Regions from separate parts of the Homo sapiens genome. Here region 2 is linked to region 1. The links come from fine-mapping of genetic effects on gene expression. Tissue or cell type: blood mononuclear cells. Region 1 holds a variant in brackets; the other region holds the start of a gene. All regions are shown on one strand. Distances are from middle to middle.

Region 1 (7,917 bases):
TCATTGTGAATGTGAGCTTGGGCAAGCCCCTGCCCTTTCCCTGGGCCTCGGGACCCCTCTACACAAGGGGTGCTTCTCGCCGGTACATGCGCAGCACCAGGCCCCCTGCTGTCCTTTGTCAGAACTCAAGCGCTTTTCCTCTCCAGTGTCTCCTTGTTAGTGCATGACTGCAAGGGCTGGGTGCTTCCCACTGTGGCCCTGGTCAGTCCCCCACTCTCTGAAGTGCCATCCCCACATCTGTAAGTGATGACCTTCTAACTTGACAGGTCTTTCAGACCCTGAGCGCCTAGACACAGCTTTACCTATTGGTCACCATGGAGCTGAGCTGTCTCTGCTAAGCCCAGGGCCAGGGCTTAGGTAGGAGGGTCTGTTGCAGGATTTCAGTGGGTCAGTTGGCTCTGGTAATCTGAGTAAGACATGTCAGCCTGCTTGAGCCTAAATTCATGTGGTAAGAACTCAGCAGAAAAGACTAGAAAATTCACGCCGGGTTCCTTTAAGCAAGCAACTAAGCTGTCTAAGCTCGTGTTAGAATGGGGAGGGTGACAATCAGGTATTTGTCTCCTCCTGAGCTGAGCTCGGAGGATAGGGTTCAACACTAGCTGCCTTTGTTTCCCAAAGACAAATGCAGAGCTGTTTGTTTATTAATCAGTGCTGAGCATCAGTGCACTGGGGTGGACAGAGCCCTGGGCCGGGAGACATTTGTCGTGGGCTCTGGTCCCAGCTCTGCCACCAATTCTTGTATGGCCTTGGCCAGGTGACGGTAAAGATAGTGGCCAGACCAAGCTTAGCCCAGTTCACAGACTCCATTCTCGCTTAGACACTTGCTCGCTTGGTGATAGGAATGGCACCTGTGAGGAAAGCAGGGCCTTGTAACAAGAGGGAAAGGTGTGCCGGGGATGGCCCAGTCTCACTGTAAAATGAGGGGACCCTCTGGAAAGAGGGAAAGGAGCCAGCCAGAAAGATGGCAGAGCAGGGAGGAGGCCTTAGAAGAACTTGGGACTCTGCCCAGCTCAGACCAGGTGGCTGTCGTTTGTTGGCCAGAAATTCCATCAAGCATCACTGAGCAAGTGCTGGATCCTTTGTCTCTGGCACCCCTGACATCTCCGGTTCTATCTTTTCAGGAGCCCCAGGGAGACTTCCCATAGAGACTAACTGGAAACTGAGCCCATCCCTTCCATCCCAGAGGAGCTGGGGGCTGGTCTCCCAGAGCCTCATAAATGTTCAGGGGTGGCCAAGAGGAAGGCCTTCTTCAGGAGGAGGGGTCAGTAGTTCCTCGCCTTGTCTGCCTGCCTTTGGCTGTATAAATTAATGCATTACCTCAGACAGGAGCCACACCGCTCCCTGCCTACCCCGCGCCCACCATACCTCGCGGAGGATGGATCGCAGAGCAGGGATTCTCCTCCGTAGGGTCTCTTAGACATTTATTTGTTTAGAGGTAGTGCATGATTTGGAAATTCAGAGAGAGGAATATAAGCCCACAATCCCGAGATAGCCACTGTGAACATTTTAGTATATTTCCTCCTTTGTCCTTTAGAGTTGTAGAAATTTGGAGCTGATGATCCTTGGTTCCACGCTTCTCACTTTATAGAAAATGGAAGTCCAGAGAGGAGAGAGACTCCCACACACCTAACTTACTGGCAGAGCTCCAGCACAGTTCACTCTGAAGGGGATTCGTACAATCCAGAACCGTCCAGGAGAGCACAGCCAAGGCGGAAAGGGACTGGAAGACAGGACGGGGACCAAGGGAGGCCTGGAGGGGAGTGCACCAGGGCTGCCAGGCCAGCACAGAGAGACGGTCTTTGTGGTCCTGACAGACCACTGGGGGCAGTCCTGGCAAGACAGATTTCACCCTTTGGGAAGAAGACTTTGCCAGTGAGAACCACCCACCCCAGCTAGGGCCTCGCACTTGAGGTCAGACCGGGTGGCTCCTAAGGCTCTCTGTACAGCCCTGAGAACCTGTCCAGCTCCTGGGATACCTCTCCCGGTGCCACGTGGATGGGCATTGAGGCAGCAAGGCCATTGGGTGCTGGCAATGTGCCACACTCCTGCCCAAGAAGGGGCTCCGCCAGGGGGCTCCGAGCCGCAGCTTCTCACACTCGCACCAGGGCTGGGCTCCCCTTCTTGCTCTCCCTGTCTCTGTGCCCCGCTTGACCCTTCTTCCTCCATGTGTCCTATCCCCCTGCAGTCTTGGTGACTCTGTGGAGGGCTTTAGAGTCCTCTCTTTTGGGGTTGAAGCCTGGCTTAACTGTTGACTGTTCAGAGGCCACAAAGATGCTACTTCAGTTTTCCAACTCTCCAGCTTTCTTACGGGTAGAGTGGAGCTCACAGCAGGATTCCTAGGACGAGGGAGGCTAAACGAGGTGGTGTCTGAGTCTCTGGCACAGGATCTAGTACGTAGTGTAATACACACTCAATAAACTTGAGTTCTCTCCTTACCCCAACTCATTGTATTTTCTAAGTGCCACTGCCACTGGTGGCCTATGGTGTGTCACTCACTGATAGCTCGTGAGGCCCAGTCCTCAGCTCAGCCACTGTTTCCTGCTCTGGGAGCTTATAAGCCATTAGACTTCTGCTATTTTCTCTAAGACTGTGTCACTCGCTCTAGGCTCGCCCAGTGGCTGGAGATGCTCAGTTTGCCTGGGGCCAGTCATCCACGTACTTAACAAATATGTATTGCATTGACTATAGGTCAAAAACTATGGTAAGTACTGGGAATACAGAGGTGAGCAAAACAGTTATGTCCATGGAGTTAAAGTCAGGCTGTTCTGTTGGCCACGCTCTTCCTCCTGCCCTTCCTGGTATGTGCAAGCATATGTCATGGATCCTGGTGAACTCGGACTCACATTCAGAGTCCCATGAGCAGGTGCTCTCCTACACCTGGGCCACGCCTGACCGCCCGAGTCTCAGCAGGCTATGAGGAAGTGGGAGGGGAGGAGTGTCACCTGCATCTGGCTCATTCTCCGTGAAGCCCATAATGCGTGCCCAGATTTTCCCTCTTCTGTGCTCTCCCTACCCCTTTCCACTACACTAGGACAGCTTTCTTGAAGATGGCAGTACCTTGCTTTGGAATCCTTTGTCAAATCCTTATGTCAGAGAGAGATGCTATAAAAGCCTTTTGAAAAGGTACAATACAAGGACCATGTATAAGCTCATCTCCTCCTTGGAGCAGCCTGTGAAGGGCACATGGCAATTCTTCATGTCCCTGCTTGCAGAATAGCAGCAAAGGGGAGTGACCGCCAAACGCCTGTAGTGTGTCCCAGGTAGAGATGCTGCCAGACGGGAGCCCGCCTCTTGCAGTGCTCACTCTCCCCAGTGAGAAGGGACTCGGACCTCCTGGCCCCACTCCCCATCAGTCATATAGACTCTGCCCTGAGTCTGTCAGCTCCTGTCCCCTGTGGCTGGCCCCCTCACCCCACCTCACCACCCCTCCCTTTCAGGAGGGCTCATGGCTGAGTCTGGCCCAGCCTTCCCTCCCCTCTTGTGTGTTTCTCCCCAGCTCATGGCTCCTAAGAGTAAAAGGGCTCCTCTGACTCACCACTGTGTTTGGGAGGAGTGGGTGTTTGATGGAACTTAGACTC[G/A]AAGCTGGAAAGTGGGCCTCCAAGACAGCAAGAAGTCAGCTCCTTCCCAAGAATCATCACAGTCCAGCGGGCCCTGGAGCAGGCCAGCCTGGACTTGAGCCTTGGCTGGGTCTCAGCCTCTGTCCTCCTGCAGCTCTTTGTGTTCAGAGAAGAGGTCAGCCAGGGAACCTATGGCCCGTCCTGCTACCAGTGGTGAGCCCTGCCACCAAGGGCTGGACCCACATGACACCATGAATGCCCAGCCACCCTGCTCTTGTTTGATGTTGGACCTGAAATTTCCCTTTCTCTTTTTCATTTGTCTGTGGCATGATGGGTTCTTTTATTTTTCCTTTTTTAATTTTTGAATTTCTTCTCATGCTTGTTTCCTATCTCATCCTCTTTATTTTGACTTGACAAAATTTGTCTGAGATGAATGAGAAGAGGGTGAGAGTTTTCTTAGTTGGAGTCCCAGGTGAATGGGCCAGGCCCCTGCCTCGGCAAAATCAGCTCCCAGACTCAACAAGCTTGGGACACTGGGGCCAGCGTCACAAACCCTGTGGCTCTGGGCAAGTCCCCTCACCCCTGAGAACCACCACCACTCATCCCGTATACTTCAGGGGGCCGTGGTGGAACCAGCTGGGCAGTGAGTGCACGCAGCCTGTGGAGAAGAAAGCGCTCCACCGAGGGGACCACACCAGCAAGGCTTGGGGGGCAGAGGGCCACTTAAGCCAGCACATAGGCAGGTTCCCGTCCAACTCAGCAGAAAGATCAACAGTGTGCTTTCAACAGTAATGCGAACAAATATTTCCAGCACTTTATGGATTACCATGTGGTTTTTACTCCTAGAGTTTGTTTATTCCTCACCGCAGCTTGGTGAGGTACCACTGTTAGCGTTAGTGTATTAGGACTCCCATTTTACAGATGAGGGCACAGCAGCTTGCCTAGGGGTGCATGACTAGGCAGATGTGAGGCAGAACTTAGGCCAGGTCCTCTCGTGCCCACTGCCTGCCCAGGTTAGTACCTCATGGGAACAAGACAATTAAGATGTGATCCGCAGACCATCGTTGCCATACATTCACTGTACAAAGGAGGGCACCTCATGGCCACAGAAGGTGACTCTGCGCTCTGCCACTGTGTGCAGAGCCACAGGGTCCTCTAGCAGAAAGGCATCTGAAACTCACAGCCCTGAGAAAAAGGCTGGGTCAGCAGCTCTGTGACTTTAGTTTGTCCCTAAGGCCTCTGGTCAGCAGAGGGTACCTGGTGCTGGCAGGGCATCGTTACACTGCTGCATCCTCTCTGGACAAGCATGAACTTGGGGGACCCCTTCTAATCCCTATATCTCCGTGGCTCACCTCCTAGGTTTTTCTTTTCACTCAAGTCAGTTCAGCATGACTCCTTCACCTGAACTTTTCCCCAAGGGTGAGTGAGCTTGAGCCCCCTCTCCCCTTCCTGACTTAGTTCAGTGGAATATGAACTAAGTGTCTGATGCGAGCCAGGCTATGAGCGTGGAGTGCGGAGTGAGACGTGCTCTCTGCCTGCAAGAAGCCCAGGGTCTAGTACAGAAAAGAAGGCAGCTCCCAAATTACTGGAATATGGGTGAGAAAGCTGTCAGTTTTTAAGAGAGGCGCATGGGCACCGGTTGGTGAGAAGGAGCATGAGGACCTGGGGAGGGCTTCATGGAAGAGGTGACCACTGAGCTGGGCCTGGAAGCCTTGCTTGGTGGAGACGGCAGGAAAAGGTGACCCACATGGGTTGAGTAGCGCACAAAACACAGAGAGACAGGAAGCATGGTGGGGCCGGGCCCAGTGTCCAGGTGCAGGAGGTCAGCTATGGAGGACTGTCGGGGAGGCGCAGCCACAAGGTGGCCTGGGGCCTAGGCTGAAACCTTGAATCTTATTCAATGGAGCCTGGACCCAACCCTGTGCAGGTCATGTCTGTGTTTCCCAGACATCACTTAGGCCACACTGTCAGAATGAGAGAGAGTGGAGGTGAGGGTCCAAGAGAGAGACGCCAAGGCTGCCAGGTGGCAGCAGAGAAGCAGGGTGTTTTGTGGGGCAGCCGACACAGCACCAACAAGACTCCGTTACCTAACGAGCCGTGGGAGGCAGAGAGGGAAGAGCTGGGACTCCCACCATCCCCATCGCCCTGACTCCTGTGGAATCCAAGCTCAGCTCGGGCGACGAGAGGTGGCTCCAAGGTGCTCATCTGCAGCACGGGACAGGTGCCACATCCTCCGCCTTGGCTTCTGCCTGCATCACGCAGGGAAGTCATGTGTAGTGCCTCACCACTAGACACGAGGGAGTCTGATTACTAGCAGCCAGGAGCCTTCCTTAGCTACTCCTCCCACTGAACAAGCACCTGCCAAGGGGCTGCTGCTTGGAGCTTCCCAAGGGCCACCAGCAGTCTGCAGCAATGACCTTCCCTGTCCCTCCCCCCGACTGCCACGGGGAAGCTGTGCCGGGGGACGGAGGAGGCCAGGAGTAAGGGGGCGATGGGAACCTCAGGTCTGTCACAGTTACCCTGGGTGACATTGGACAGACCCCTGCGCCTTGCTGGGCCTTAGCTCCCACCCCTAAAACAAAAGGACTGTACTTTTATAATGTTCAGGGCCATGGTGGCTCAAAACAATTGAACATTTTCTTCGTTTAAGAAGAATGGCAAGCCTTACGTAATCAGTGCAATCAAGTGTTATCCTTTCCTGCTCTGTCGGGTCTAAAACTCCAGCCAATTTTTAATCAGGTCTTAGGTGCAGGGGCCAGAGCCCTCTGGAAGGGCCAGGGCTCCTATTAGACTTTCCCAGCCTCTGGAGAAACAGGTTGGGAGGGTGTTGGGAGGACGTCAGCCCAGCAGGCAAAATGGGGAATCCAAAGCACACAACCACACAGGCCTGTGTGTGGGCAGCTGGCTGCCATCGGGGTCCTGACAAGGGTGGAAAACAGTTACAGTGACCTGGGCAAGGCCAGACCACAGACACAGAAGGATCTTGCGACAGCTGGTGGAGCCCAAGCGTGGAAAGGCCTCCATCCTAGGGCAGGGCCAACCCTCAGACCAAATGCTAGACAGGGTCGCTGGGACAGGGACTCAGCTCCCAGAAGGACAAAATCCAGATCCAGGAGTGAACTCAGCCGTTGAGACCCGGTCTTAGAACAAGGCAGATGTCCAGTTGTCCAAGCCAGAGCCCAAAGCCTGTGCCAAGCTCACAGCAGAGCAGCTCAGGTGCAAGTCCCGGACGTGGAGCTGAAACGCCAGGAATCCCTCCCGCCTCAGCCAGGATGAGTGGCAGTCAGGGGGCGGGGGGACACATGCCCACAGCACCTTGCACACCATCCAAGGGCAGCTTATGAGTCTGCCACATTCATCCTTCTTTCTTCAAGCTGGTCTCAATCTGACACCACTGTCTGATTGAGTTTAAGAAAGAACGTGGCATTTGCAGTTGGTTTGCATCTGCCACTTGCTGTATGTAAGACCTTGGGCAAGCCATTTAGCCTTTCTGGGCCTGGCTTCCCAGCTGTTACAAGTCCTTATGGGAGCCTTCTTATAGGGCTGTGAGAATTAGAGTTAAATTTAACATTAAATTTTAAAAAGTGCCTGGACGTTGCTCTGGTAATAATGTTCACATATTCATTCCTTCTGTTTCTTGAGAACAAGGAGGGAAGAACCACTAAGACCTTGGTCCTCTATGAAGTAGGAGGGAACAGGGCTGTCCCCACATCATCAGTGCAGTTGTAACTTGAATATTGCTGTGACCCCATCCTGCGGCAGAAACAAAGCCACTTCCCCATCTTGTCAGGGAGGTATGAGAGCAGCCTGCCCAGAGTCCCTCTCCCAGTCACTGCGACTCTCTGCAGTTCCCTAGTGACACCTGAGCTGGCAGAGAAGGAACAGTCAGCTCTTTCTTAGGTGGCGGCAGAAGCTTAACTGTGGCACAGCATGGGAAGCCCTGCACAGGCCCCAGCTCCAGCCTCCTCTGAACAGGAGGTCTGCACAGCAGACTTCGCCTATGCCGGGGTCCCTCCTTCAGGGTCCAGGGCAGGGTGTGGCCAGAAAGTTCCACACCAGTCTAGAACAAGGGGAGCAAGGGCAGGGTCTGGCTCCTTCCCACCCGCAGCTCCAGACACCCTTTGTAGACAGCAGGGGTCACCCCAGGTCTAGAAGCATAGGCCTCAGCTCAGACACACCCAGGTTTTAACTCTGACCAAGACATCCGCCAGCTGTCAGTGTCAGTCCTTTGCTCAGAAAGTGGAATCAAGTGGACTTGTTAGGTTTGGCAATTCCCAGTTCCCCGCTGATTTTAATTAGAACATCCTGGTGGGATGTAAAGAGGCCAGATTCAATGTTAAAGGGTTGAGGGGGTGGTGGC
Region 2 (7,917 bases), 40 kb after region 1:
CAGCAGGAAATGCTTCCATACAACGTGGCCTCTTCCCCACCCATCCACAGCTGAGTAACCTGACCTGGGACAAGCTTCTCCTCACAAAGGCAGCAAAGCCCTCCTAATCCCCTCCTTCCTAAACTTCTTCCTCCCAGCCCTGGCCTAATGCTCTGGGAAGCCACCTACCCACAGCTTCCATCCCTGCCACCTGAGGTTTTGTGCCAAGAGACAAGCCTGACCCTGTCCAGTGTGGGAGGCACCCTGGGACCTAGTTGGATCTGGAAAGTGTGGCAAGTGTCCAGCTTCTCACCAGCCGCTCACTAAACCTGCCTTTCATTTCCAGTGACAAATATATACTGAAGATCTGGGAGCAGCCAGGCCCCCGTACGTTACAGAGATGGGTTTACCCTGCAGCCGGGCAGCTCTGTGGCTGGGAGATGGAGCCCCAGGATCCCCTTGTGGCTCTGGCAGTTTGGTCCTGGATTTTACCAGTTACCACTGACAGAGCCTCAGCCCCGGCCTTTCTGAAGCAAATAATCCAGCAACAGCCAGCAGTTTCGCTTCCGGGATTTCCTCTTTTGTTTTTCTTTATTTGAATTTTTGTATTACCATGTGTGCCCTGCTTTCATAATTTAAAAACAAACAAAATTACAAAGCTATTCATTTTCAAAAAAAAAACAAACCCAGAGCTTGCCTCTTACTCCACCGGCCACGCCTGGCTGGGTCTCTGATGGGGCCAGTCTCGCTGGCTCCGGTCCTGCCCTTTCAGGTCAGGGAGCCTCAGCCCTGGCCTAGGAGACCCCACTTTCTTAGGAAGTTATGTTCTAGGGAGCATGTCCCCCTCCCCGGCAGGAGCTGGAGATGGACTTTGGCCCCAACCCACAGAGCTCCTGGAGCCAGCTCTTTGCAAGGACTTCCTGGATTCTGACTGTCAGATTATGATCTTTATTGAACATCCCTGGGCACCCAGGAGCTTGGCATAGGCTGCAGGAGCCAGCTGGGTGGGGCAGGAGGCTGCCTGAGCACCAGCCTGGCCTGTGTGTTCCCCGGCAAGTTGCTTCCCCTCTCTCAGCCTCACTCCTGCCTCTTCTATAAAGAGATGCTGGCAGTTACACAGAGCATTTCTCCAAGGCCTGGGAATAGCATAGGCATGGAGGAAGCAGAGAGTATTCCCTGTCCTTAGGGAAACGACAGCCCTTGCCAGGTCTCTGAGACATTAATCATTATCATCGCAGCTGATACTCATCGAGTCCTGGAATAAGCACTTTACATATCACCTCGTTTAATCTGCACAGCAGCCCCATTAGGAAGGTATGATTTATTAACCCCTTTTCATTTGCCCAGGCCCCAACTCCTTCATCTGTTTACAGACTCACCCGTGGCTAATAAGTGGGTGTCAGGGTCCTTGCCAGGGGTTCAGCTCCACAGCCAAGCTCTTGAACTGTGCCCCAAAGAGCCCAGAGCCCAGAGGGCTTGGAGCCATGGAGGGGAACCCAGAGGAGGGGTCCCCATCCAGCTGGGCCAGGTCTGGGAGCAGTGGAGGGGCTTTCTGCAGGAGGTGGGACTGAACTGAGCGAGCAAGGCTAAGCAAGACAGAGCCTGGCAGAGCAGGGAGGAGGGACATTCACCTGGGGGAACAGCTTGTGCCGGGGAGGGAGGGAATGGCACATTCCAAATTTATTAGCTGAAAACAACAGGTGGAAAGGAAGCCCCTGCTTCCGCCCTGCAGGAAAGGGAGCGTGGACCAAGCTGGAGGGCCCGCCCTGAGGACTTGTGCTCCCCAAGCCCTGGCCCCAGGTGCCTCTCCCTTTTCCAAGTCTTTCAACCTTCCTAGCCACCACCTCCAGAAAGCCTCCTGGATTGGTTCCAGGGCCTGTGGCTTCCCTCTTTAGAGAGAGCTCCTTCCCCACGTCCTGGAGGGCCAGGTACCACCTCGGGCACCTTCCCAGCTGAGATATCATCTCATCCTCACACCTACTCTGCCTGGTAGGACGACTGCCCGTTTTGCAGATTGGGAAAGTGAGGCCACAGCCCAGAGTGTCTGGATCCCTCCAGGTGGCCCTGAGGTAGGCCCAGCTCCTATTCTATGGATATGAGCTCCTAGGGACCAGGACACTGGCTGCCATGTGCCTCTTGCCTTTTCCACATGGTGCCAGATACCCAATGAGTCCTGTGAAGTGAAGCTGGGGATAGCCAGGGGAGGGGACAGAAATGCAAACAGGGCCAAGGAGGCCCCTGCTCCAGCCTCAGCCCCACCTCAGACCTGCTGAGGGGCAGTAGCCAGGACACCTGCCCTGTTCACATGATGAGCAGGGAGGGAGGGTCAGATGACCCCCAAGGTTCCTCCCAGCCCTCCCCAGGAGTTCCACAGCATACGGGAGGCAGCTACCACTGCTGGGACCAGACGATGCTGGGCTGCAGCTCACCTCCCAGGAGAAACCACAGCAGTCACAAACCCACATAGAGGCTTCCAGCTCCTGAGGCCCCAGTTACCCCGGGATGCAGTCACAGGCTAGCCACCCAATGTATCTTGGGTTTCAAACATTTAAAAGTCATGGTATCTCAGTATGCTGCCATGGGATTAAAAAAAGAGGAAGAAAGAAAAAGTTGGCTGGGCGCAGTGGCTCACACCTGTAATCCCAACAGTTTGGGAGGCAGAGGCGGGTGAATCACCTGAGGTCAGGAGTTTGAGACCAGCCTAGCCAACATGGTGAAACCCCATCTCTACTACAAATACAAAATTAGCCGGGTGTGGTGGCGGGTGCCTGTAATCCCAGCTACTCAGAAGGCTGAGGCAGGAGAATCGCTTGAACCTGGGAGGCGGAGGTTGCGGTGAGTGGAGATCGCATCACTGCACTCCGGTCTGGGCGACAGAGCAAGACTTCCTCTCAAAAAAAAAAAAAAAAAAAAAAAAAGTTGTTCAGGCCAGGCGTGGTGGCTCATGGCCCATGCCTGTAGTCCCAACACTTTGGGAGGCTGAGATGGGTGGATCCCTCGAGCTCGGAAGTTTGAGACCAGCCTGGGCAACATGGCAAGACCCTGTTTCTAGTAAAAATACAAAAAAAATAGCCGGGCATAGTGGTACACACCTGCAGTCTCAACTACTCAGGAGGCTGAGGTAGGAGGATCAGTTGAGCCCAGTGGGGAGAGGTTGCAGTGAGCTAAGATCGCGCCTAGCCAACATGGTGAAACTCCATCTCACTACAAATACAAAAATTAGCCGGGTGTGGTGGCAGGTGCCTGTAATCCCAGCTACTCAGAAGGCTGAGGCAGGAGAATCGCTTGAACCTGGGAGGCGGGGGTCGCAGTGAGCCGAGATCGCGAGACTCTGTCTCTAAATAAATAAATTAATTAAATTAAATAAAACGCCCGATTAAAATGTGAAACCTCCATCAAATAAGTGCAAATTAAAGCCACAGTGAAATGGTATTGTTTCCCCAATCTGACTGAAGATTACAAAGTGTGGCAACGCGCGGTGCTGACTTAGGCAGGGCGGGAGGGGCGGGCCTGTCTCAGCCTGTGGCGATTTGGTGGCATCTGGCAAAAGCCACTCTCCAGACGCAGGCCCTTTAACCCCGTAAGCCCGGGCCAAGGACGACTCACCGGGGCCACCTTGCTTGTGGGTGGGATGGGGCCTCTGGCATGAACGAGAGTGACTCCGAGTGGGTAAAGATGCCCTCCTCGCAGAGGACACGAAGCAACAAGGAAAACAGCCACCACGTAATAAGCGACATGCCAGAATAGAAGGATTCTTTAGTACAATCTTTGCTTTTTTCAAAGAAAACACGCGCGCCTCTCATTCGCGTTTGCTCCCTTCCCGGCGCTCATCCGCCCTGAACTCCAGCCTGGGGCGCCCGTGGCCGCGAGACCCAGGGGCTCTGAGCGCAGCAGGCGCCCAGTGACTGCGGGTGGAGGCCCCGCGTCGCGCAAGCTGCCTCCGCGCCAGGGAGCGCGTGCGCCTCGTAGCGCGTCCCGGGGCCGCCCCTGCGCCCTCGCGTCCCAGCATCCCAGAGCCCCGGCCCTGGCCCCGGGAGTGGCTCGCGAGGAACAGCTGGGACGCGCTCCCTGGCGCTCGGACCCGTACTGGGGTCCTCGGAATCCTCAGGTCCCAGGGAGTTTCAGACCCGGCCAGGGTGGGGGACCCTCGGGGAGCCGGCCGGGGACCCCAGGGAGGGGAGCGGCAATGGCGGAACGCCCACTGGAATTTGGGCCAGAGCTGGAGCGGCCCGTCTGGGCTCGACCCCACGACGCGACTCCAGACGGGCCAACGGGGCGGTCCCCACCGGGGTGGGCCCCGCGCGGCGCTCACCCAGTATCTCCTTGCGCCGCTGCGTGTGCGGCTGGTCGGTGTAGACCCACTCGAAGTCGCTGCGGCTCGCGCTGTTGCCCATGGTGGGGCGGGAGGCGCCGTTCGGAGCGCGGCCGGCTCGGCTCTGCTGCACCTGTCGCGGCGGCCGCGGCGCGGAACCAGCTCTGATTAGGGCGGGGGCGGGGTCCCGGCGGGGCGGGGCCAGGTGCGCCAGGCTTGGGGCGGGGCACCTCTGGCTGGGCGGGGCGGCCGGGCCCCGGCGCTCTCCAGACCCCGGCGGGTAGCTGGCGCTTTGGGAACCTCAGTTGCCTCGGTTGGAAATGGGGCTCCCCGGCAGGACCGAGGTGGCCGCGTGCCATCTGCGCGAGTCCCTGGGTCCCTCGATGCGCGGGGGCGACTGCTGCCACCGCGGCCTCCCACCGGCTCTGCGCGCCCCGCCCACCCGCGGGCAGCCGTCGGGTTTTTACCCCGGCCCGTTCTCTCCGCAGCCCCGACCCGCTCGCGGGCACGCCCCTGTGGCTCGCGCCGCCCCTGCCCCAAGGAGGAGCGGCTGGCAGGATAGGGGGACTGCGGAGGATCGGCGTGGAATGGATGCGACGGTGCCAGTAAACAGGCGCCGAGGAAAGGTTGGTGCAGCAATCCTCCCTTCCTCCACCCGGCCCTTTCACCAATAATGCAAAGGGGAGATAATGCGTCTGCAGCAACCTCACAGGGATGAGTCAGACCCACTCCTGCCTTCAGGGAACTTGAGTTCTGGATGGGGACACAGGTACAGAAGTGGCTGTTATGATTCAGGGTGATACGTGCCATGACACAGGTAGGCCCTGAAGCAGCTAGGATCCAATAGAAGGAACTTTTGCATTGGGCCTTGAGGGGTGGGTAGGAGTTCAACAGCTAGAAAAGGGAAAGGCATTGGTGCTAGGGGGAACAGCAGATGCAAACGCTTGGAAACAAGGCAGAACCTGAATGTTCTCAAATGGAAAGTCTAGTTTTGGGGAGGTAAGGGCACAGGGCCCCTCATCTTCACCCTCTCAGTGATGCCTCTGTTCCTTCTCCCACTCCCTTGGAGTTTTGGAGGGTGGACCTGCTGTGCCTGTGGGCCAGAGCCTGGCCTCGGCTGGCAGTTGCCTGGGAGCTGACTGACACATCAGCCAGCGCTGCCACAGGCTCGCACATAGTGAGGGCGTGCTTCTGTGCGTCCCATGGAAGTCCATGGCCCGGGGTTTGGTACACTTGGCAGGCCTTCCTTAGCTCAGGGCCAAAGGCAGTCCTGAGTGAGCCAGGAAGGAAGGCATGGGTGTCCTGCAGCCGCCAGCCACCATCCCCTGAATTAGCCATGGGAAAGGTGGACACAGAGGCCAGATTTTCCATCAGCAGGGGGACCCACATGCCACCATGGCCATCACCCCTTGCCACACCCAGGAGGCCTCCCGGCCCAGCTTGCACCCTTGGGAGAAGACTCATTGCTCCCAGGGCAGCCTGCTCTGTTCCCAGCCAGAAGGGTCCTCAGAAGTCATCCCACCAGCCATCACTTTACAGATCAGGAGACTGAGGCCCAGAGATGAGGAGCGCCTTGCCTGAGGCACAGAGGAATTAACAGCAAGGCTGGGGCATGACTTTGGCCCCTGACCTTTGAATTAAAAAGCTTCCAAAATCAGAGCCTTCGCCCCTGTGTTGAACTCCGTGAGATCTGCCGCCCTGAGCCCCAGCTCCACCCTCAGGACAACACCAAGCCTGCCAGTTCCCTCTGCCCCAGGCCACCGCCTATCCAGAGGAAACTCACCAAGGCCCTCATTTTCCAGATGAGGAAACTGAGGCCAGAGAGGGGACAAGTCAGAGGACATGCTGAAGAAGACCTGGGAGTGGAACAGACACCCAGGATGCATGAAATCAAGTCTGATGCCCTTGCCAAGTGCTCCCCAAGTCCCTGGGGAGCCAGAAACCCAGCTTCACGGTGTTGACGAGCCAGGAGCACATACTGTTGCGTCCCCACCCTGTCCGTTGTCCCAGAAATGACAGAAAATACATTTTCGTTTGTAATGTGGTGTCTTGAATGGGATCCTGGAGCAGAAAAAGGACATTAGGTAAAGCTAAGGAAAGCCTAGTAAAGCTGGACCATAGTTAATCATAGTGTATCAATATTGGTCCATCAAAGGCAACAAATGCACCATATTATAAGATATTAAAATAAAGGAAACTGGGTGTGGCATATATGTGAACTTTCTAAACTATCATCACAGTTTTTCTGTAAATATAAAGCTGTTCTGAAAAATAAAGTTTATGGCCGGGCATGGTGGCTCACGCCTGTAATCCCAGCACTTTGGGAGGCTGAGGTAGGCAGATCACCTGAGCTCAGGAGTTCGAGACCAGTCTGGCCAACATAGTGAAATCCCGTCTCTACTAAAAATACAAAAATTAGCTGGGCGTGGTGGCAGGCACCTGTAATCGAGGCAGGAGAATTGCTTGAACCTGGGAGGCAGAGGTTGCAGTGAGCTGAGATTGCACCATTGCACTCCAGCCTGGGCGACAGAGCGAGACTGCATCTCAAAAAATATAAATAGGCCGGGCACGGTGGCTCACACCTGTAATCCCAGCACTTTGGGAGGCCGAGGCAGGTGGATCACGAGGTCAGGAGATCGAGACTATCCTGGCTAACACAGTGAAACCCCGTCTCTACTAAAAATACAAAAAAAATTAGCTGGGCATGGTGGCGGGCACCTGTAGTCCCAGCTACTCGGGAGGCTGAGGCAGAATGGCATGAACCCGGGAGGCGGAGCTTGCAGTGAGCCGAGTTTGCGCCACTGCACTCCAGAGCCTGGGCAACAGAGCAAGACTCCGTCTCAAAAATAAATAAATAAAAATAAATAAAATAAATAAATAAATAATAAAATAAAATGAAGTTTATTAGGCCAGGTGCAGTGGCTCACACCTGTAATCCCAGCACTTTGGGAAGTCGAGGCAGGCAGATCACCAGGCTGGTCTTGAACTCCTGGACTCAAGGAATCCACCCACCTTGGCCTCCCAAAGTGCTGGGATCACAGGCATGAGCCACCGCGCTCAGCCAAAATATAGTTTCTTTTAAATATAAAGTTTGGGAGTGTACACACACACACGCGCACACAGCATTGGAAAGCAGGGACTCTTTGGACTGGAAACTGAGAGGGAGCCCACCACGGCCAGCTACTCTTCAGTGGCCCCTTGGCCTCCCTCCACACCCCCATTTCCCCTGGGCCAGGCAGCAGCAGGGGTGGGGTGCTGGTTACCTCTCAAGAGGGCCCTGATTGTAAGCCCCCTGGCCGGAGTGCTGTGCCAGGAGCAGGATGGGCCTCCACCCAAAAGCCTCAATGACAGTATTAGCTGCCCCATGCAAAAAGGCCTCCACTGCCTCGTGTTTGCAGAAAACAGGCCAGAAGACATTTCACACTGCCCCTCCCACACCTCCCAGGAGCCAGCAAGGAGTCAGACAGCCCATGACCCAGAGACAGCACACGTCGGAGGAAAGCCACAGAATGAAAGGGCAACCGACCCAAGAAGGAGCAGAGCCTGACAAACAGATGTTGAGGAAAGCAGACTCGATGGAGGAGTGAGAGCAGTGCCCCCAAGACTGAGCTAGAGATAGACATTTA

What was found. PIP is the estimated chance that this variant, and not a neighbour inherited with it, causes the effect.
Region 2: it holds the start of DEGS2, and the variant in region 1 is fine-mapped to the expression of DEGS2 in blood mononuclear cells (TOPMed, PIP above 0.99). The same link has a PIP of 0.9 or more in whole blood.

The regions. Positions count from the first base shown.
Region 1 is chr14:100,115,299-100,123,215 of GRCh38, forward strand. The region is part of intron 3 of EVL (Enah/Vasp-like); the gene reads left to right. Among named protein-coding and RNA genes, the nearest start is that of MIR342, 9.6 kb to the left of the region's middle. The variant G/A (reference allele first, on the strand shown) is at 3,579.
Region 2 is chr14:100,155,215-100,163,131 of GRCh38, forward strand. It overlaps DEGS2 (delta 4-desaturase, sphingolipid 2), which reads right to left and starts at 4,431. Exons shown (of 3, transcript NM_206918.3): 1 at 4,292-4,431. The coding sequence starts at 4,373. LOC124903380 (a long non-coding RNA gene) reads left to right here and starts at 4,823. Exons shown (of 2, transcript XR_007064330.1): 1 at 4,823-4,917; 2 at 6,094-6,500. RefSeq lists silencers at 4,218-4,277, 4,378-4,777.